Homo sapiens: one gene and its partners. The protein of the gene in region 3 interacts with the protein of the main gene of each other region in a pairwise test. Each region holds a gene or a part of one and is shown on either strand. Other genes may lie near its edges.

What was found. Proteins that work in one complex are often made in the same cells at the same time.
Region 1: the proteins of ZSCAN1 (region 3) and SSX3 interact in a two-hybrid assay, tested with the Homo sapiens proteins (one large-scale study listed by BioGRID and IntAct).
Region 2: the proteins of ZSCAN1 (region 3) and ZNF407 interact in a two-hybrid assay, tested with the Homo sapiens proteins (one large-scale study listed by BioGRID and IntAct).
Region 4: the proteins of ZSCAN1 (region 3) and ZKSCAN5 interact in a two-hybrid assay, tested with the Homo sapiens proteins (one large-scale study listed by BioGRID and IntAct).

The regions. Positions count from the first base shown.
Region 1 is NC_000023.11:48,349,136-48,354,223, reverse strand, and holds part of SSX3 (protein SSX3), read left to right. Parts: intron 1-129; coding exon 130-225; intron 226-2,074; coding exon 2,075-2,124; intron 2,125-4,101; coding exon 4,102-4,237; intron 4,238-4,636; coding exon of another isoform or gene 4,637-4,683; exon of another isoform or gene 4,684-4,827; intron 4,828-5,088. UniProt on the Homo sapiens protein: Could act as a modulator of transcription.
Region 2 is NC_000018.10:75,062,350-75,067,239, forward strand, and holds the end of ZNF407 (zinc finger protein 407), read left to right. Parts: intron 1-800; coding exon 801-2,119; 3' UTR 2,120-3,322; downstream 3,323-4,890. UniProt on the Homo sapiens protein: May be involved in transcriptional regulation.
Region 3 is NC_000019.10:58,031,654-58,037,345, reverse strand, and holds the start of ZSCAN1 (zinc finger and SCAN domain-containing protein 1), read right to left. Parts: upstream 3,322-5,692; 5' UTR 3,185-3,321; intron 2,604-3,184; exon of another isoform or gene 1,377-2,603; 5' UTR 1,335-1,376; exon of another isoform or gene 864-1,334; coding exon of another isoform or gene 853-863; intron 1-852. UniProt on the Homo sapiens protein: May be involved in transcriptional regulation.
Region 4 is NC_000007.14:99,528,142-99,532,998, reverse strand, and holds part of ZKSCAN5 (zinc finger protein with KRAB and SCAN domains 5), read right to left. Parts: intron 1,892-4,857; coding exon 750-1,891; 3' UTR 1-749. UniProt on the Homo sapiens protein: May be involved in transcriptional regulation.

The DNA.
Region 1 (5,088 bases), on a different chromosome or scaffold from region 3:
CAGCCTTGAATTCCTGGCCTCAAGCAATCCTCCAGCCTTAGCCTCCCAAAGTGTTGGTACTACAGACATGAGCCACCGTACCAGGCCCAAGCTTGTCTCTTAAGGAATAAACATTTTGCTTCTTTCTAGGTTTCAAGGCCATCCTCCCATCTTTCATGCGTAATAAACGGGTCACAGACTTCCAGGGGAATGATTTTGATAATGACCCTAACCGTGGGAATCAGGGTGAGTAGATGGGAAGGGGCTGGAAAGGGTCTCCTCAAGCCCAATTGCTTTTCAGCTCAGCTACCTGGGAAAGAGCCTCAGGCATTTGTTCCCTCATACACATCGGGGCAGAGTGAAAAAAAAAATTGCATGCAGAAAGTTAACTACAGAGGTCATTCATATAAAATTTTAAAACATGCAAAAGAAGAATATATATTTTTATGGATAATAAGTAAATGGTAAATGTATACAAACATGAATGTGAATAAAAAGCCATCAAACTAAGGTGACTGGCTGTAAGTGGAGGAGGGAGGGAGGGCAGGGATTGCTGAGTGCTGCACAGACAGCTTCAGCTGTGACTTGTTGATAGTGTGTTTTGTTTGTTTTTGTTTTTGAGATGGAGTTTCACTCTTCTCGGCCAGGGTGGAGTGCAATAAGGCAATCTCAGCTCACTCCAACTTTCACCTCCTGGGTTCAAGTGATTCTTCTGCCTCAGCCTCCCGAGTAGCTGGGGTTACACGCACGTGCCCCCACACTCAGCTCATTTTTTAATTTATGGTAGAGACGGGGTTTCACCATGTTGGCCAGGCTGGTCTCAAACTTCCTGACCTCAGGTGATCCACCCGCCTCAGCCTTCCAAACTGCTGGGATTACAAGTGTGAGCTACCACGCCCGGCCTGTTTGCAGTTTTTCTAATATTCTGAATAAATAAATCAGACCTAACTTAGCTGTGGGGTAATGTTGAGATCCGACTGGACTCAATATTATTCCCCATACTTTTCTGTGTGTTTGAAATATTTCTTTTTTAAATGACATGTTGTTCTTCCTAAGCACTGTTAATGTATCAAAGGACAGTTAAGAAAATGTTACAAGTGAAAAAAAAAAAAAAGAAAGAAAGTGTTAAAACTGTAGATCCGCCAAAAACTTCCAGAGGTTGTTTCATTAACAGCATGTAGGTATTGGATAGGTATCTTAGGAGTGAGGTTGATGAACACATTATGTAATAAAGATCGCTGTTTCTCTGTATTTTATCAAAACCAAATAGTCTTCTCATTCCCAAATAACCCTGATTCTCTGTGATGAGCTTGAAAGAGAGTTTGAAAGAGTGATCCCTTATCGAAAACACAGAGAGCTTTCCCACTTGTCAGAGAACAGAGATAACATAGGATGAAAAAAAGACAGGTTCTTGGGTAGAGAGCTTTGTGCATTTCAGGAAAATAAAGGGGACATATGTATTTACTTGCTCTTCTACTCTGACAACATAATTATAAGACAAGGTCAGAATGTCCAAACCGTCTCCAATAGACCTATTACTCGCCAACTAAACAGGCCAGATTCTACAATCTCCCGCAATCACTATAAGAGATCTGAAAAGCCAGTGCTTGAGTATCTGCCAAGTTTTTAACGTTAAAGGACTGTCTTTGTACTGAAAATCTTTCAGAGCCACTGGACCAAATCATCCGTGGTTCACCACACATTTAACAGCTTAATTCACATACCATAAGATTCACCCATTTGAAGTGTACAATGATTTTCAGTTGTTGCACATCTTGAGTGGATACAGTTCAGATTCCTAACCAATCAATTTAATTATTTGGGAAAAAGTAAAAGATATGTAATCGAATAAGATGAGACTGTGATGGGGTGTAGTCCCCATGTGATAAACCATGAGATGGAAAATTCTGAATTGATGCCACAGATAAATGCATCAACCATGACTAAACATAATTCAGAAGCAAATCTGAAATAACTCCTCAACAATGCGTGGACTCATAAGCCTCTGCTGCAGAATACCCTGATGCGACAGAAGTCTCTCTAGAGTTTGGAAACCTTTACCAACAATGAAAAATTCTGATGTATTCTCTTTCAGTTCAACGTCCTCAGATGACTTTCGGCAGGCTCCAGGGAATCTTCCCGAAGGTGAGTATCTTTCAGATCTAAAGGACCAGAGAACCTTTGTCCCTCCAAGGATGCGAACACTGGTAAGAGTGGGAGAATATCAACAATGCCCTCACTGCCTTCTTCTCCCCATGTCTATCACAACACCTGATGTAGCACCGACGGCTTGATAGTACCAACATTTGTGATTGTTCATACCTCTTTTGTTTTCATAGTGATGCCAGATACTATTTCAAGCAGTTCACATGGATTAATTTATTTAATCCTTAAGAAGACATTGTTTCTATTATCTCCGAATAATAATGAGTAACACATTTCAGTTTTCATCCATATGATAGCCATATGACTTGGCACAAATCTTCTGAGTTCTCTGAGCTCCAGATTCCTGGTCCATGAAATGGAAGTAAAGAATTATAGTTTATGTTTTAGATCATAGTTATCAGCAACATAATAATAAAATGAGGCTATCGTGGTACAGAGATGTTAAAGAATTTTCCTGAGGCGCAGTGTCAGTGGTAGTCTAATCCAGAGCTCCAAGCCATTTAAAGCTCATTCACGTTTGCATTTGTTTATGAAGTTCAGATGTTGCTCACTAGGGCTTCACCCCATAGGGCCTGCTGGTGCTTCCATTGAGACACCCACTCTCGCAACAGGAAGGACCATCTGGTCTCTGCTGTGTTACTGGGGCCACTTGCATGGCTTAGGAATCGCTTTGATTGTTGGCCCCTCCCTACTGTGAGCTCCTTGAGTGCCTTGTCTGCACCTGGGGCGTCTGGGAAGCCCCAGTCCCAGCCCAGGGGATCCCTCGGAGGCCCCTGAATGAGTGATCCCACAAGTGCAGATTCAACTCTGGTTTGGAGGGTAAAGGGATCTGGGAGTTGGGTTGCCAGTGTGGAGACTGAATTCAAAGAAGGATTGTGAAAGGTATTAATTGTTATTATTACTACATTTAAAGAGTGTTTACAAGCTCAGAGAGCACTTTCTTGTAGCCTATTTTACATGTATGGTTCACTATTTCATAAGGGAGGAAGCTGAATTAAAAGTAGCTTAAGATCAGGGCGCGGTGGCTCACGACTGTAATCCCAGCACTTTGGGAGGCTGAGTCGGGCAGATCACAAGGTCAGGAGATCGAGACCATCCTGCCCAACATGGTGAAACCTCGTCTCTACTAAAAATACAAAACTTAGTGGGGCGTGGTAGTGCCTGCCTGTAGTCCCAGATACTCTGGAGGCTAAGGAAGGAGAATCGCTTAAACGCGGGAGTCAGATATTGCCTTGAGCCGATATCATGCCACGGCTCCCCATTCTGGCGACACAGCAAGACTCCGTCTCAAAAAAAAAAAAAAAAAAGAAAAAGAAAGCAGCTTAAGATTGTTGGTCAGTACACATCCCAATGCAACCAGAATTGGTATGGGTACCACCTCACTGAATTCCACATTCAATTGGTGCCTCGGTAGGGTAGTATGTCATATCTGGTACTGCTTTGTTTGCTGCCTAGATTAATTTCAGCAAGCCATTTATTTCCCTCTCCCTTCCTTGTGTTCATCTCCCCACACCATCTTTCCCAGCAGTGTTTTGTCGCCTCCCTATGTTTTTACATTTACTCTCCCAGCAGCTGTCTACAAGCTTATATGGGATCCCTTGTATTTTACAGAACCTCTTCCCTTTGTAGACCTTGTGAATTCTTAGAATGCTACTCTTCTCCAAATCATCTGTATATCACACTCTCAATTAAATGGAGATTTTTGCTGTTTGCAAGAATGTGAGTCCTAAAAGAGTGGGAAGATAAGCATTCTATCCCTGGAAACCATATTCACTTAGGCCATTCCTTTCCCTTCTAACCTCCCCTCCCAGGTTTCTCCTAATTTAGGCCTGTGTAACTCTCCCAGTGTTGTTGAGAACATTGAATAAGCTAATGCATGTGAAGACCCTTTGTAAGCTCAAAAGCACTATAGAAATGTCACTGATACTATTTATCTATGACCTTCACATTATAAAGATCATGCCCAAGAAGCCAGCAGAGGAAGGAAATGTTTCGAAGGAAGTGCCAGAAGCATCTGGCCCACAAAACGATGGGAAACAGCTGTGCCCCCCGGGAAAACCAACTACCTCTGAGAAGATTAACATGATATCTGGTAAGAGGAAGCAATTCAGGAACAATCCCACTGGCTTCCCTGGCGACGTTCAGGTGTGTGGACTGGGTGTGTGGCATGGATCCCAGATAACCCTGGGTCCAGGCTGGGCTGAGGAGCTTGCCCAGCTCCAGATGAGATGTTAGACATGACTTCCAGAGACAGACTGGAGTTGTCATCCATATAAAAAAAAACCACGTGACTTGAGGAAAGTCTTCCAAATTTCCTCAGCTCCAGGTTCCTAGTCCATAAGATGGAAATAAAGAATCATAGTTCATAAATTGTTTGGAGACATTAAATTTAATCTAGAAGGCCTGATGACATGAAAGGTGCTCAAGCGATTCTATCTGTGATAACCTGGGATCATATCTTACTCAGCTCAATGCCTGTTACCCAATACAGGTGTCCTTCAGAGATACTGCAGGTTCGGTTCCAGACCACTGCAATAAAGTGAGTCACACACATTGTTTTTTGTTTGACAGTGCATAAAACGTTATGTTTACACTACAGTGTAGTCTACTAAGTGTGCAATAGCATTATGTCTAAAAATGTATATACCTTAATTTTAAAATAATTCATTGTTAAAAATGCTAACAATCTTCTGAGCCTTCAGTGAGTCACACTCTTTTTGCTGGTGGAGGGTCTTGCCTCGGTGTTGATGGCTGCTGGCTGGTCAAGGTGGTGGTTGCTGAAGATTGGAGTGGCTGTGGCAGTTTCTTAAAAGAACACAACAATGAAATTTGCCACATCGATTAGCTCTCCCTTTCATGAAGGATTTCTCTGTAGTATGTGATGCTATTGGATAGCATTTTACCCACAGTAGAACTCCTTTCAAAGTTGAACTCAATCCTCTC
Region 2 (4,890 bases), on a different chromosome or scaffold from region 3:
TACTTATTCAATCCAAGGCACTGTCCGGAAGATGGGACAGAGAAGAGGAAGGCTGAGTCTGTCCCCTCGAAGCCCGCTGCCCAGTTCTGCAGTATAGACTCCCCTCTCAGCCCCTGAGTGGCCAGGACCCTGTGTCTGCATGTGCCCAGCACCCTGCAGAGTGCCCTGCATGCTGCCAGGACACGGCGACTCACATGGCCGCACAGGCTGCCTGCCCAGGTTCAGCACCTGAAACGTCGATGTTCAATAAATATTTGTTGCATTAAACTTTTACAGCGGTGTTTATTGATGACATTTTTTAAAATTTAATATGCAAGGCTTTCATTCTTTTTGCTGAATAAACAAATATACCATATATAATATTTGGTCATTAAAAAAAGATTTTCCGTTGGGTTAGGAGATACTACTGCTGGCTGTTTGCTGAACTTTACTTAGCACCCGTGACGGAACGCATTGTTACAAAAGACATGATGGTGGTTGGGGGGAGGTATCCAGCCTCCTTCCCTGGGCATTGGAGAGGCGCACACCCCTGCAAAGAGTTGTATTGGACAGCTCACAGGGCTGTGGGGAAATGCACACCCAGTATTAACTGTGTGTGCCCTTGAGCCTAGAGCCTGCCTGCAGATGCCCACGGAGGCCTCTGGCCCTGCTGAAGCTTGCACTGTAGAGAGCTCTTCAGGGTTTGGAATAGGGGGTCGTGGTGACTCTGCTGAGGCCTGAGCGCTTCTGCAGAAGAAGTGTCTTACTTGTAAGCCTACGAGTACTTTTTCCAGGCTCTAACTGGTCCCTGTCTCCCTTAGGCATTGTTTCCAAGTCGTACGAGTGCCGTCTAAAGGGACAAGGAGCCACCTTCGTGGAGACAGACAGCCCCTTCACCGCGGCGGCCTTGGCAGAAGAGCCCCTCGTCAAGGAGAAGCCCCTCAGAAGCAGCAGGAGGCCAGCGCCGCCCCCTGAGCAGGTGCAGCAGGTCATCATCTTCCAGGGCTACGACGGGGAGTTTGCCCTGGACCCCTCGGTGGAGGAGACGGCCGCCGCCACGCTGCAGACGCTGGCCATGGCCGGCCAGGTGGCCCGGGTGGTGCATATCACGGAGGATGGCCAGGTCATCGCCACGAGTCAGAGCGGGGCACATGTAGGCAGCGTGGTGCCCGGACCCATCCTCCCCGAGCAGCTGGCTGATGGAGCCACCCAGGTGGTCGTCGTGGGGGGCTCCATGGAAGGCCACGGCATGGATGAGTCCCTCAGTCCAGGTGGCGCTGTGATACAACAGGTGACCAAGCAGGAGATTTTAAACCTCTCGGAGGCTGGAGTCGCTCCCCCCGAGGCATCCTCAGCCCTGGATGCATTGCTCTGTGCGGTCACTGAATTAGGGGAGGTGGAGGGCAGGGCTGGGCTCGAGGAGCAAGGCAGGCCCGGCGCCAAAGACGTGCTGATCCAGCTGCCCGGGCAGGAGGTCTCCCATGTGGCTGCCGACCCCGAGGCCCCCGAGATCCAGATGTTCCCACAGGCCCAGGAGAGCCCGGCCGCCGTGGAGGTGCTCACCCAGGTGGTCCATCCCTCAGCAGCCATGGCCTCTCAGGAGCGGGCACAGGTGGCCTTCAAGAAGATGGTCCAGGGCGTCCTCCAGTTTGCTGTGTGTGACACGGCCGCGGCCGGCCAGTTGGTCAAGGACGGTGTCACCCAGGTGGTGGTGAGCGAAGAGGGTGCCGTCCACATGGTCGCCGGGGAGGGTGCCCAGATCATCATGCAGGAGGCGCAGGGCGAGCACATGGATCTGGTGGAGTCCGACGGGGAGATCTCGCAGATCATCGTGACGGAGGAGCTGGTCCAGGCCATGGTGCAGGAGTCCAGTGGCGGCTTCTCCGAGGGCACCACGCACTACATCCTGACAGAGCTGCCCCCAGGGGTGCAGGACGAGCCGGGCCTGTACTCCCACACCGTGCTGGAGACTGCGGACTCGCAGGAACTCCTGCAGGCCGGGGCCACGCTAGGCACAGAGGCCGGGGCCCCAAGCAGGGCAGAGCAGCTGGCCAGCGTGGTCATCTACACCCAGGAGGGCTCCTCGGCCGCGGCGGCAATTCAGAGCCAAAGAGAAAGCAGCGAACTCCAGGAAGCATGAGACGCGCGGCACCTTTACTCAGCACAGGGCAGGTGTGGGAAGGTCCAGCTTCGGTGGGGGACCGTGTTCCCTGAGCTTCATCTGAAACCTTCAAAACCATGAGGACAAGGCTCCCGTGAGCTCTGAGCATGCCCTCCCAGCGAGAGTCACACTGGCCACCAGCCAGGCGCCCACAGAGGGTACCGTGGGCTGGGCCTCGGGGAGCAGGCTGCCAAGTGCAGGGGAGGGCCGGGCGCAGGCCGCACAGGGAGCTCCGGTCCACTGGGGGCCCTTCGATCAGTGGCCTCCCGCTTCGTCCTGGCCGCTGTGCTGAAGAGAAGCCAAGTGTTGTTGGTGTTTTTCTCTCCCAAGTGTTTTCCCATTTCAGTTATCAGAAGGTCATGGCCGTGGGGAAAGTGGTGAAGATACCCCTCCTGGCTTGGGGTGCACCTGCTTGTGCAGTCAGCATGTAGCTGCCTTTCCATTTCATTCTCTACTGGGCTAAAAATTGCAGCTACAAGTGTTACCATCTTGAAGCAGTCCACTTCCATTCAATTTTTTTTTTTTAATTTTAGAATAACAGTGTCCCCATACCAAAGGAAGCCTGCTAGCTCATTTCATGTATAAATTTCCCATCTTCAAACAGTTTAGGTGTATTTGTTGCTCTGGTCACATTCTGCATAAAAGAAATCCTCTTAAGCCTATGGTTAAGAAAAGCCTTGAAGTTTATATTCAGTTAAAATATATGTCGGTGGAGATAGCCAGTGCTTCTAATTTTGACTTAGTTTCATACAGTAAAGCCTAAATGTGAAACGCACACGCTGGAAGATATTGTTCCTATCAATATTTTGCTTTTTATAACAAGGGTTTGTTCATATTGATGCCATTTTTGCAGGATTTCTTCGTGATTTCTGTCCATATGAAAATGCTGACATTAAACATTAACACATGGAGACCGTGCCCTGTGGCCCTGCCGTGGCTGCCAGCATGGTCTGTGTTTCCTTGTGGATTCACCTGTGGCCCTGCTGTGGCCACCAGCATGGTCTGTGTCCTCGTGGATTCACTGCAGCTGTCGGATGCGAGTTTCTGTCATAATCATTTGTTTCCTGATACAATTGTTCTTATTCTTTTCCAAAACTGTAAAATAATCTCCTCCCTCAAATGCAAAGGTTGTTTTTGTTCTGTTTCTGTTTTCTTTGAAATAAAATTATAACGTTAAAAGATCACGATGGCATGTTATTTTCAGCAGCCAGTGGTGGGCAGCTGTGGCAACCGAGGGGGCACCCCGGCGCTTGTGGCTGCTGGCTTCTCCCTCCTTCGTGGCCTCCAGACGCGGAGCACTGCTGCACATCCCCTGCAGCCCGATACTGTTTCTCAGCATCTGGCAAATGGCCCAGATGCATTCTGGTGACAATAACGTATTCTATCATGGATAGCATCTAGAAATCGTGAAGAGCAGGCATGAGAGGAAAGGAGAGTGGTACCTTCTTTGTTTAAATACAAGTGCCGTTTAAAATCTCTTCCTGAGAGAGCATGGAGACCAGCTCACGCTTTGACCAGTTCAGAAGCGGAACCGGCCTCTTCCTAGCGCCCTTCTCACTGCTGAGCTCTGTCCACCTAGGGCCACCTCCCTTTAGACAGCCACTCCTCCAAAAAAATAAGAACTGAAGGTAAATTTCAAGGCTGACACTGAGATCCATAATTAGCTGAGTATGACTTGCTCATGTTTCTTAACAATGGCAGGGCTATTCAGGGCTTCTTAAACACTGTCTTCAGCAAACAGTGACAGGATCAAGGTGACCTTTACAAAGTGATGGCCCTCGCCAGGCTTCTCATACATGTTAAAAAAAAAAAAAAAAAAAAAAAAAAAAAAGGTTGGCGGGGGGATGTTTTTCAGTGGAAAGATTTCTTCTTGATCACTCCTCCCGTTAGCAGTAGCCCACGGCCCTCGGCTCGGATGCTAATTCCTAACCGTGCGTAGTCCTGTATGGCTAACCTTTCTGCTGCAGTCCAGGGTGTTGACACTGACATGCTGCAGTGTACCGTCGGTGATTTATTTAGGATAAATATGTCTCAGGTGGCATTTAATCCTTCATAAAACCAGTGTAGCCTGCAGTGTCAAACCAGCAATCACGTTGTATGCGCAATGAAAAGAGCAGGCCTTTGCATAAAAAAAAATTGTACAGAAGGTGTTTCTAGGCCCAGAAGGATTGCGGAGGCTTCACTAAGCCATTGTATCCTGTAATTACCCATAGAGCTAGGTTAATGTTACCTCTCTTTTTCTCTCTCATTACACAACTATTGGAATGTAAGGGGGTTTAAGAAGTACATACACGAATGTGTGCCTTAGAATAATGAGGCATAGCAGGTTTTGTGAGCAAGGGACATTCATTGTGGCATGGATTGTCTATAAAAAAGACAAGCAAGCTGATAGCTTTCCTTGTGACTTTTGCCAGAGAATATGACAGAACTTCAAAGTTTTTTTTTTTTTAAGGCAAATGAAATATTTACTTGGAGACTAATCCAGAAAGGCCACTTTTGTATTAAGCTGCAGCCAATTAAACGACAGAGCCTCAAGGACGTCTGGCATGCAAGGAAGACCAGACCGCCTGAGGCAGCAGATAGTAATGGTTTAGACCTCAGCTTCCATGGCGGAAGTCGAGCAGTGCTCTCTGTATATGCTGGAGAGTTACAAAGCAAGACAGCAGTTTCCAGAAAAAGGAAGTTGTAGCCACTTGAGGTCACGTTCATGAAACAGAATCAAACCTGCGTCGTTCCGGGATGCCCCAGGC
Region 3 (5,692 bases):
CTGACGAGCTGCGGGAACAAGAATGCCTGCCCCGTGGTGTGGCCAGCACTGCCCAGTGAAGTTCCTACAGGGATGTAAAGATTCTCTACCCATGCAACCACCTACGTGTGGCTAGGAGCACCTGAAATAGGAACTGAATTTTAAATTTAAATTCCATTTAAATGGAAGCAGCCAGGTGGGCTACATAATAATGGATGACACCACCACCAGCAGCAGGTCTACCCATGGTGTTATCTTTGCTGTCTTCCTGACTTTCCTACCAGGTCCAAGCTGGGGGTGGAGACCAGGAAGAGGGCAAGGGAGACTGGAGACTCTGAAAAGAGAGGGAAAGTGGGAAGAGTAATTTTAAAATAACCTTTTGTGGCCGGGTGCCGTGGCTCACACCTGTAATCCCAGCACTTTGGGAGGCCCGGGTGGGTGGATCACCTGAAGTCAGCAGTTCAAGACCAGCCTGACCGACATGGCGAAACCCCGTCTACTAAAAATACAAAAATTAGCCGGCGTGGTGGTGCACACCTCTAATCCCAGCTACGTGGGAGGCTGAGGCAGGAGAATTGCTCCAACCCAGGAAACAGAGGTTGCAGTAAGCCAAGATCGCACCACTGTACTCCAGCCTGAGTGACAGCGTGAGATTCCATCCCAAAAAAAATAAATAACCAAAAATGAGTTGGGCGTGGTGGCACGCACCTGTAATCCCAGCTACTCGGGAGGCTGAGACAGGAGAAATGCTTGAACCCAGGAGGCGGAGATTGCAGTGAGCTGAGACTGTGCCACTGCACTCCAGCCTGAGCGACAGAGTAAGACTCTGTCTCAAAAAAAAAAAAAAAAAAGAAAAGAAAAAAAAGAAGTTACCTTTTGTACATTTTCCAAGCCGACTATGGTGAACATATAACTGAAGAAAACATTAAAAGTTGTAAAAATAAAAATAAGCAGGGAGGTTTCGTTTGTTTGTCTTTAACAATTGTACTCTGGACTGATCCGCTGGTGAGAATATAAATTGGCACGACCTTTCTGGAAAGCACTGTGGCCATTTATATATCAAGAACACTTGGTAGACTGCGTGCAAGATGCGAGATTCAGGCACCAAGATTCACTACAAAAGTGCCCAACAGTTGAACGTGGTGGGATCAACTACCTCCCCCATCATGTGATGGGAGTATTCAACCGTGCCCAGTACACAACACTATGACATGACCACGGGGAGTAGACACATGATGTACAGATGACATGAGGCACAGGGAACGTGGGATGCAGGATGATGCGTGAGTGTCATAGAAAGGGAGTCCTGGGAAGACGCCCATGGGGGGCGGCCAAGTGCTTTGTGCTGTTCATACTTCTCTGAATCTCCTCCAAATGGTGTCGGGCTCCCATGTGACCTTCATCAACATGGAAAAACAAAACAAAACAAGACATCTTTAGGAAGGATTTTTGACCATATGGGAAATGCTTATGACAAGTGAAAAGGAGGGATTCCATGGGATTTTTCCCTCTTCATCCTCTGCTGCATTTTTCATACACTCTGCAGTTCTCGTGCATCTGGTTTTACAATCCAGGAGAAAGGAGAGGTGCAGGGTGGCAGAAAGGCAACTCACGGGGACTGTGCCCAGCCAGCCATCTTCGAGTCAGCGTACCCGGCCACCTGCACCCTGATTGGGAAACTACCAGCTTGGTCTTCCCTGCCAAGGCCACAGGCAAAAATGCTCTCTTATGTTGTATTCACACTTTTATATATGTAGTTTTGAATAAGAAAAAAGGGCCTATTTTGAAGCTCCACAGGTTCAAGAAATCCCTTTGCCCTGGGGCCTCAGACCTTATACTCTCTCAGGTGCTCATGGCAGCTCACCCTGGAGACTCTAGGGAGGGGGGCTGTAGCCCCTCAGCATCCTCCAGGGTCCTGGGCTGAGGTCTGTGGGAGGAGATGCTAAGTTTATCAGGGATGAGGGTAAAGAGGAGGTCTTAGCAGAAGGCACCAGAGGTCCATGGGTGTGTCTGGGGTCTATATGGGGGCTGATGTGGAACACCTAGGCCAATGTGGGGGTACCTGAGCTGATGAGAGTCCTGGACTGATGGGTGGCTGTTTCTGGAAGATGAAGAGGGCCTGGGATGATGTGAAGGGGACTGAGGTCTACATGGCTGGTGAGGAGGATCTGGGCCCCCCCATGGGCAATGCTGTGGTGGCCCTGGGGTCCTAGAAGTCTACTTTGGTAGGGGTCTCTGATTAATGTTGGGGATGTGTGTGTGTGAGAGAGTGTCACTTGGAGGGCTCAGTGCCTGTGGAAGGGCCAGGTTCACCTGGCATGGGCACTGAGATCTGCAGCCCGAGCCCCAAATTCTATTGCGGGGATGGGCAGAAGGGCTTTGCCGCTGATGCCGGATGCTTAGTGACATAGAAGACGTGTTCACTGCGCCAGTCAGTGAATGGTTCTGGCTTTGAGAAGGGGGCTTACAGTGGGGAGGGCGTTGGGAGCTTAGGATGCCACACGGAGGAGTTCCATAATAAACGAGCTGGGGAAGTGTGCAAGGGCAGCGCACTGGGAATACAGGGGAGGGGCAGCGACGACGGCTGTGGACGGCTGGTTGGGGGGAGGATGGTGGGGTGATTGGGTGGGGGATGGGTCGGGGGCGGCTGTTCAGGAGGGAGATGGGCCTGGGGCGGGGAGGGGGAGCTTGTAGGGAGAGAGACGGGTCGGGGGCTGCTGTTCCAGTGGGGGATGGGCCCAAGGGGCCGGGTAGGGAGGGAGATGGGTCCGGGGGCGGCTGTTCAGGAGGGAGATAGGTCCCGGGATGCTGATCAGGTGTGGAAGGGAGAACTTGGACGCGGCCGAGCGGTGTTTGGGCGGGCAATGGGGGTACGTAGAGGGGCTTCGGCCTCAAACGGACAGGCGGATGCCAACAGGGGTCGGGGTCCCTGCGGAAGGGGCGGCCCCAGCCCCCCCAGTCCCCGCCCCGCGTGGCCTCTAGCCTTCCCCTTCCCTCCCCTACGGCGACCTCAGGACTCCCGATGGGCTCTGGAACCCCGGCCCGGCCCGCCCCCTCCCGGGCCCGGGCCCGCCTCCCCCGACGCGCGCCCCTGGACCGCGATCCCGGGCCAGCTCCCGCCGACGCGGCGCCGAGACCCTCCCGGGTGGGCGTCCCGATGGACGCTCTGGCGGGCGGAGGGACGGATGGGCCGCGGCGGACTCACCGCGCGCGGGCTTCGCTCGGGCCTGGGCCACTCGGTCATGGCGACCCCTGGGCTGGCGAGCGCGCCCAACGCCGCGGGCGGACCCCATCCCCGCACCCTGCGCGCCGCGGGCGGCCGCCATTGGTCCGCTGGATCACGCCGGGCGTCGGTGACAAGTCACCGCTGCGGGACTCCCGGGCAGGGGCGGGGCTGTGACGCACGAGGCGGCCGAGGCCAATCAGAAGCCGCCTGGGATGAGCGCCCCGCCCCCGCCGTGCCCTCCAGTTACCTCGGGCCGCGGTTCCAGTCGCCTTGGCAACGGGTCGCGCAGCGTCAGGGACGCTGCTGCGGAAAGTGGAGACGGTGGCGGCTGCGGGGATGCGCATGTACGATGGGGCCGCGGGGCAAAACGACGGCATTCCAGACACGCAACCGTTTTATACAGTGTCCAAGAGTAGTATGTTAAAACATTGTTTTTAATATAAATATGTTTAGTACAAGTATGTCCCAGACTAGGATCGCCACTCTTAGCAAATAAAAATACAGGACGTCGGCCGGGCGCGGTGACACGCCTGTAATCCCAGCACTTTGGGAGGCCAAGGCAGGCGGATCACGAGGTCATGAGTTCGAGACCAGCCTGACCAATATGGTGAAACCCCCGTCTCTACTAAAAATACAAAAATTACCTGGGCGTGGTGGCGCATGCCTGTAATCCCAGTTTCTCAGGAGGCTGAGACAGGAGAATCACTGGAACCGGGGAGGCGGAGGTTGCAGTGAGCCGAGATTGCTCCATTGCACTCCAGTTTTCCAGCGTGGGTGACAGAGCGAGACTCCGTCCCCCCACCCCCAAAAAAAAGAAAGAAAAAAGAAACCTCAGTTATATGTAAACTCAAGAAAAACAAGGAGGCCGGGCGCGATAGCTCACGCCTGTAATCCCAGAACTCGGGAGGCCGAGGCAGGCGGATCACCTGAGGTCGGGTGTTTCAGACCAGCCTGGCCAACATGGTGAAACCCCGTCTCTACTAAAAATACAAAAATTAGCCAGGCATGGTGGTGCGTGCCTGTAATCCCAGCTACTCGGGAGGCTGAGGTAGGAGAATCGCTGGAACTGGGGAAGCCGAGGTTGCAGTGAGCCGAGACCTGCCAACGCACTCCAGCCTTGCCTGGGCAACAGAGTGAGACTCTGTCTCAAAAAAAAAAAAAAAAAAAAAAAAAGAAAGAAAGAAAAAGAAAAACAAGGAATTAGTATCAATGTGTCCTATATTTCATATACTTTAACGAAACCTTACATAAGAACATTTCATATAAATAAGTTTTAATATTAATGTCTACAATGTAACCATGTGCCAGAATAGTAGGGTTCCACAGATACTCGTTTTGTATCTGAAATCAGGTGGGGGTGAGATCATGATGCAAGGAGGGTCCTCAGCTCTGGGACTGAGCTCAGGATAGCTGAAGCTGCTCATTGCTGAAGAAGAAGCAGGAGAGTGTGAGCTAAGAAAAGAGAGGAGGACCCACCTCCAGGGGGTCCAGCATCTGCTGGACAGCTGTTTATTGAGGGCCTATGTGTACCAGGCACTGTTCTGGACACTGGGGTGGGAGCACATCAGTGAGAGGGACTGATAGGGCTTTAGTCCCTTGGAAGCCCATGTTCATGGGGCAAACACCAGTAAACAAAGCAGATGCTTCATGGAAATATAAATACCTAGAATAAAATAAAACGAGGCCTGGAGATTAAGAGTCCCAGGAGTGGCAGGGAGGGGAGGGGCTGCCTCAGCTGGATAATCAGAGCCGTGTCTCCGCATCTTTGCTGCTGGCGGCTGGTCCCTGGAATGTTGTGTGTGAATGCCACTTTGTGCAGAAACCACTATGGGAAAACCAAATTAGGGTGCTAAGGGCTTATTATTCTCCTTCTTGAAAATTAGGCACTTGTAATGACATGGTTCATTTTCTTGGTAGCTGAAATTGGCGTGGCCCTTTGGGGCAGTGAAGGCTCATGTGTGCATTTATAACTGCCACCCATTTGGGAAATCTCCCTTGAGAGAACACTGACTTAGTCTGTCTCTAGAGTCTGGATCTAGACACCATCATAGGCCACCTGGTAACTCTAGATCCATTGGGAGGCAGCCTGGTGTCTAGCAGAGGTTTCAGTTTTTTTTTGTTTGTTTGTTTTGTTTTTTTTAAAAAGAGTCTTGCTCTTGTTGCCCAGGCTGGAGTGCAAAGGCGTGATCTTGGCTCACTGCAACCTCCACCTCTCGGGTTCAAGTGATTCTCCTGCCTAAGCCTCCAGAGTAGCTGAGATTACAGGTGCCCACCACCACATTCAGCTAATTTTTTTGTATTTTTAGTAGAGACGGGGTTTTACCATGTTGGCCAGGCTGGTCTTGAACTCCTGACCTCAGGTGATCCACCTGCCTCGGCCTCCTAAAGTGCTGGGATTACAGGCATGAGCCACCGTACCCGGACCAAAATTTTTTTAAGCAGTAGAAATCTTTGTCCCAAATTAAATCTTACTCGAAATCCCAATTA
Region 4 (4,857 bases), on a different chromosome or scaffold from region 3:
TAAGATGTGACTGACCAGTACAGTTTCTCCTGAATTGACAAACTGAACTACTCCTTCTACCGGCTAAACCCTGACATCAGTAGAATCAAACCAAAAACAAGGTAGAGTGTTTCACAGAGAAGTGGTGGATTGAATAAGGCAGCAGAAACACATACCATCCAGCCCCTGAACCTGAATTTTGCCAAAACAGAGATACTTTAAGTCCATTTCTTTTCAAAGGGGTTAATGCTCAAAGTGGGAATAGTGACTAGGGTATTCTAGTGGTTGGAATAATAATTTCTAGAAAAGGTTCATTGCTGAGGTACCAAAACAGACATCATGCTAAGGAATTCTTTTACTGTGCGCTTCCCTGAATAGATACGCCGTCAAACAAGGCAGAAGCTACAAATAAAGCTTACTTCTACTGAACTCATGAAGCTGTTCCTAGTGTCAGTTTTGAGTTTCAAGTGAAGACTGAATGTCAACTGCAGGCTTTCCGAATTCCTCGACCATGTCCATCCATGGATTCTCTTCTTGTCTAGATTTCCAAGCATGAAGATGCTAACTAAAGCATTTCTCAATGGGGAACACGAAAAGATTTCTATTATTGTGGGTTCTCCGGTGTTCCTAAAGGCTGAGTTATAACTAAAGGATTTCAACCTATTTGTGAGTTTGATGGTAACGCTGGAAAAATGCTTGAAGTTGTTACTTTGCTCATTATAGGAGTATGGTTTCCCTCCAGGAAGGTTTCTCTAAAATTAAGAGCTATTCTACAACAGAGACCCCTCTACACTTAAGGTATTTATGGGATCTGTCCTCTCATGGCTTCTCAGGTGTTTAAAGAGGCTACAACTCCAGCTGAAATTCATTCCACATTCTTTACATTGAAAAGGTTTCTCACCAGTATGGATTCTCTGATGTTGATTAAGATGTGACTTCAGAGTGAAGCCTCTGCCACATTCATGACATTGATGGGATTTTGTGCTGGAGTAGATTTTTTGATGTTGTTTGGTGTGGGAACACTGGCCAACATTTTCTCTACATATATCACATTGATAGGGCTTCTCTGCTGTATGAGTTCTGTAATGCTGAATGAGGTCTGAGCTATAACCAAAGGCTTTTCCACAGATATCACACTGATAAGGCTGCTCTTGTAACTCAATCTTCTTGTCTTCAATCACTGTCAAGTTCCAACTATATGCTTCCTCACAGATGCCATTTTTTTCATTTTTCTGACCCATGTGGAGCACCTGATGTTCAATTAGGCTAACGTACTGAAAAAAGATTTCCCCACATTCACGACACTGATGGGATTTCTCTCGGGAGTGGAGTCGAAGATGTCCAGCCAGGTGGGAACGCCTCCCAAAGCCTTTCCCACATTCGTTACACTTGAAGGGTCTCTCCCCACTGTGCACGCTCTGATGCTGAACAAGGTGGGACCTCACTCTGAAGGCTTTCCCACATAAGGGACAGGTGTAGGGCTTCTCACCTGTGTGGACGCGCTGATGCTGAGTTAGGTGCACGCGTTGGTTGTAGCTTTTCCCACATTCCTCACACCTGAATGGTTTCTCCCCAGTGTGTATTCTTTGATGTTGAATAAGATGTGCACTCTGAATGAAGCTTTTCCCACACTCGTTACATTTATGTGGTCTCTCTCCAGTGGAGGATTTTTTGTGGACATATGGGACTTCACTGTAGTTCATCCTCTTTGAAGATGGTTGTCCTAGTATCTCTTTCATGGGAATTCCCTGCTTTCTATCCAGCTTGCCTTGAAACTCACAGCCTTCTCCAAAATCTTGAACTTGAGAAACATTTCTTTGGGTTTTTCCAGATAGTTCCATGTCTGCTTCTGAATATTCTGAAATTTTCTTCTTAACACTTAATTTTGTGTTCTTACTTCTTTTGTCACTGCCTAAAAAAAATAAAGAGCAAGTGAAAATGTCATCAGTTCTTTTTTTTTTTTGAGATGGGGTCTTGCTCTGTCGCCCAGGCTAGAGTGCAATGATGCGATCTCGGCTCACTGCAACCTCTGCCTCCTGGGTTCAAGTGATTCTCCTGCCTCAGCCTCTCAAGTAGCTGAGACTACAGGCGTGCATGACCACACCCAGCTAATTTTTGTATGTTTAGTAGAGATGGGGTTTTGCCATGTTGGCCAGGCTGGTCTCAAACTCCTGACTTTGGGTGATCCACCCGCCTCAGCCTCCCAAAGTGCTGGGATTACAGGTTTAAGCCACCGTGCCTGGCCCATCAGTTCTTTTATAAAGGAAAAATAAACTGTCATAAAAAATGTTCATCAGATGAAACTATGATGTAACGGGAGTAACAGAGGTGGATGTGTGTGTGTACTTGATGCCAACAGGAATGTAAACAACAAACTTTTGGAATTTTCTGACGAAAAGAGCAAGACTCATCCACAGGATGGCAGAAAATATTTGCAAACTATGCATCAGACAAAGGACTAATATCCAGAATCTACAAGTAACTCTAACAAGTCAACAAGAAAAAAAAAATCCCATCAAAAAGTAGGCAAATGACATGGAGACAGTTCTCAAAATAATATATACAAATGACCAACAAACATGAAAAAAATGCTGAACATCACTAATCATCAGGAAGGTGCAAATTAAAGCCACAATAAGGTACTGCCTTACTCCTGCAAGAATGGCCATTATTAAGAAGTCAAAAGGCCGGGCGTGGTGGCTCACACCTGTAATCCCAGCACTATGGGAGGCCGAGGCGGGCAGATCACCTGAGGTCAGGAGTTCGAAACCAGCCTGGCCAACATGGTGAAACCCACATCTCTACTAAAAATACAAAAATTAGCTGGGCATGGTGGCGGGCGCCTGTAATCCCAGCTACTCAGGAGGCTGAGGCAGGAGAATCGCTTGAACCCAGGAGGCTGAGGTTGCAGTGAGCCGAGACTGCGCCATTGCACTCCAGCCTGGGCAACAGCAAGACTCCATCTCAAAAAAAAAAAAAAAAAAAGGCCGGGTGCAGGTGGCTCACGCCTGTAATCCCAGAACTTTGGGAAGCCGAGGTGGGTGGATCACGAGGTCAGGAATTCAAGACCAGCCTGACCAAGACAGTGAAACCCCATCTCTACTAAAAATACAAAAATTAGCTGGGCATGGTGGTGGGTGCCCTGTAATCACAGCTACTCCAGAGGCTGAGGCAGAGAATTGCTTGAACCCAAGAGGCAGAGGTTGCAGTGAGCCAAGATTGCGCCACTGCACTCCAGCCTGGGCAACACAGCGAGACTCCATCTCAAAAAAAACAAAGAAGTCAAAAAACAATAGATGTTGGCATGGATGTGGTGAAAAGGGAACGCTTATACATTGCTGGTGAGAGATAAATTAATACAACTTCTGTGGATAACAGTATGGAGACTTCTTCAAGAACCAGAAGTAGATCTGCCATTTGATCCAGCAATTCCACAACTGGGTATATCTACACAAAGGAAAAGACAATATACCAAAAAGACTGTAAGCGCCTGTCTTCTGCAGCACAATTCACAACTGCAAAGATATGGAGCCAATCTAAGTGCCCGTTGAGCAATGAGTTGATAAAGAAAATGTAGCAGGCTGGGTGTGGTGACTCGTGCCTATAATCCCAGCACTTTGGGAGGCTGAGGCAGGTGGATCACCTGAGGTCAGGAGTTCAAGACCAGCCTGACCAACATGGTAAAACCTCATCTCTACTAAACATACAAAAATTAGCAAGGGATCGTGGTAGGTGCCTGTAGTCCCAGCTACTCGGGAGGCTGAGGCAGAAGAATCGCCTGAACCCAGGAGGCAGAAGCTGCAGTGAGTTGAGATCACATCACTGCACTCCAGCCTGGGTGACAGAGTGAGACTCCATCTCAAAAAAGAAAAACAAAAAACAAATACATAACTGGGTGGTGAGAACTGACAAAAACTGGAAGAATGAGAGTGAAGGATGATGAAGAGGGTATGCAGTCAGGGAATATCTGACTAGGAGTCAGGAAATAAGGCAAAATGAGCCAACAAGAAGCATTGTCAGAGGGTGGGTGATACAGCAATCCCTGCCCCCTTCACCCTTAGCCAACATTCTAGCCTCAGTTTTCCTCCCCCGGCATGTCATCCTTCTCCTTTGGGAATGCTCATCACCTTTACTATCTGCTACCCCCACCAGACCATCGGCTGCATGAGAGCATGGACTGTATCTCTGTTCTGGTCACTGCAGATCCTGTGCAACTAGCAACACAGACTCTCAATAATATGGCTGGATGTGCAAAACATGTATTCCCCCTTTGATCCAGAAAAATGAGGGAGGACCGGGCATGGTGGCTCACACCTGTAACTCCTAGCACTTGTGGAGGCCAAGGCTGGAGGATCGCTTAAGCCTAGAAGTTCAAGACCAGCCTGGGCAACAGAGCCAGACCCCTTCTCTACAAAAAATACATAAATTAGCTGGGTGTGGTGGTGAACACTTGTAGTCCCAGCTATGCAGGAAGCTGAGGTGGGAGGATTAGTTCAGCCCAGGAAGTGGAGGCTGCAGTGAGCTGAGATCCCGCTACTTTACCCTAGCCTGTGTGACAGAGCAAGACCCTATCTCAAAATACAAAAACGCCCCCGCCCCACAAAAAAAATGTGGAAGGCAAGTGAGTATTCACTGGGAAACTAGCCATAGAAACAATTGCAGGGAAGGTAGAAAACAAAAGATAACTATTTTAAAGCGATTGCTTTTTCAAGTCCAAAGCGCTATTGGTGGATTTTCCAAATGAGGGAATCATCGAGTAGAACGGGAAAACACTAGCTGAGAGGATAGCTCAGCTCAAACCCAGAACTTTAAAGACACTTTACTGACTTCTGTGCCATGGTGGAAGATGCAGCGTGGCTGTAAACATCAAAGGCAGAA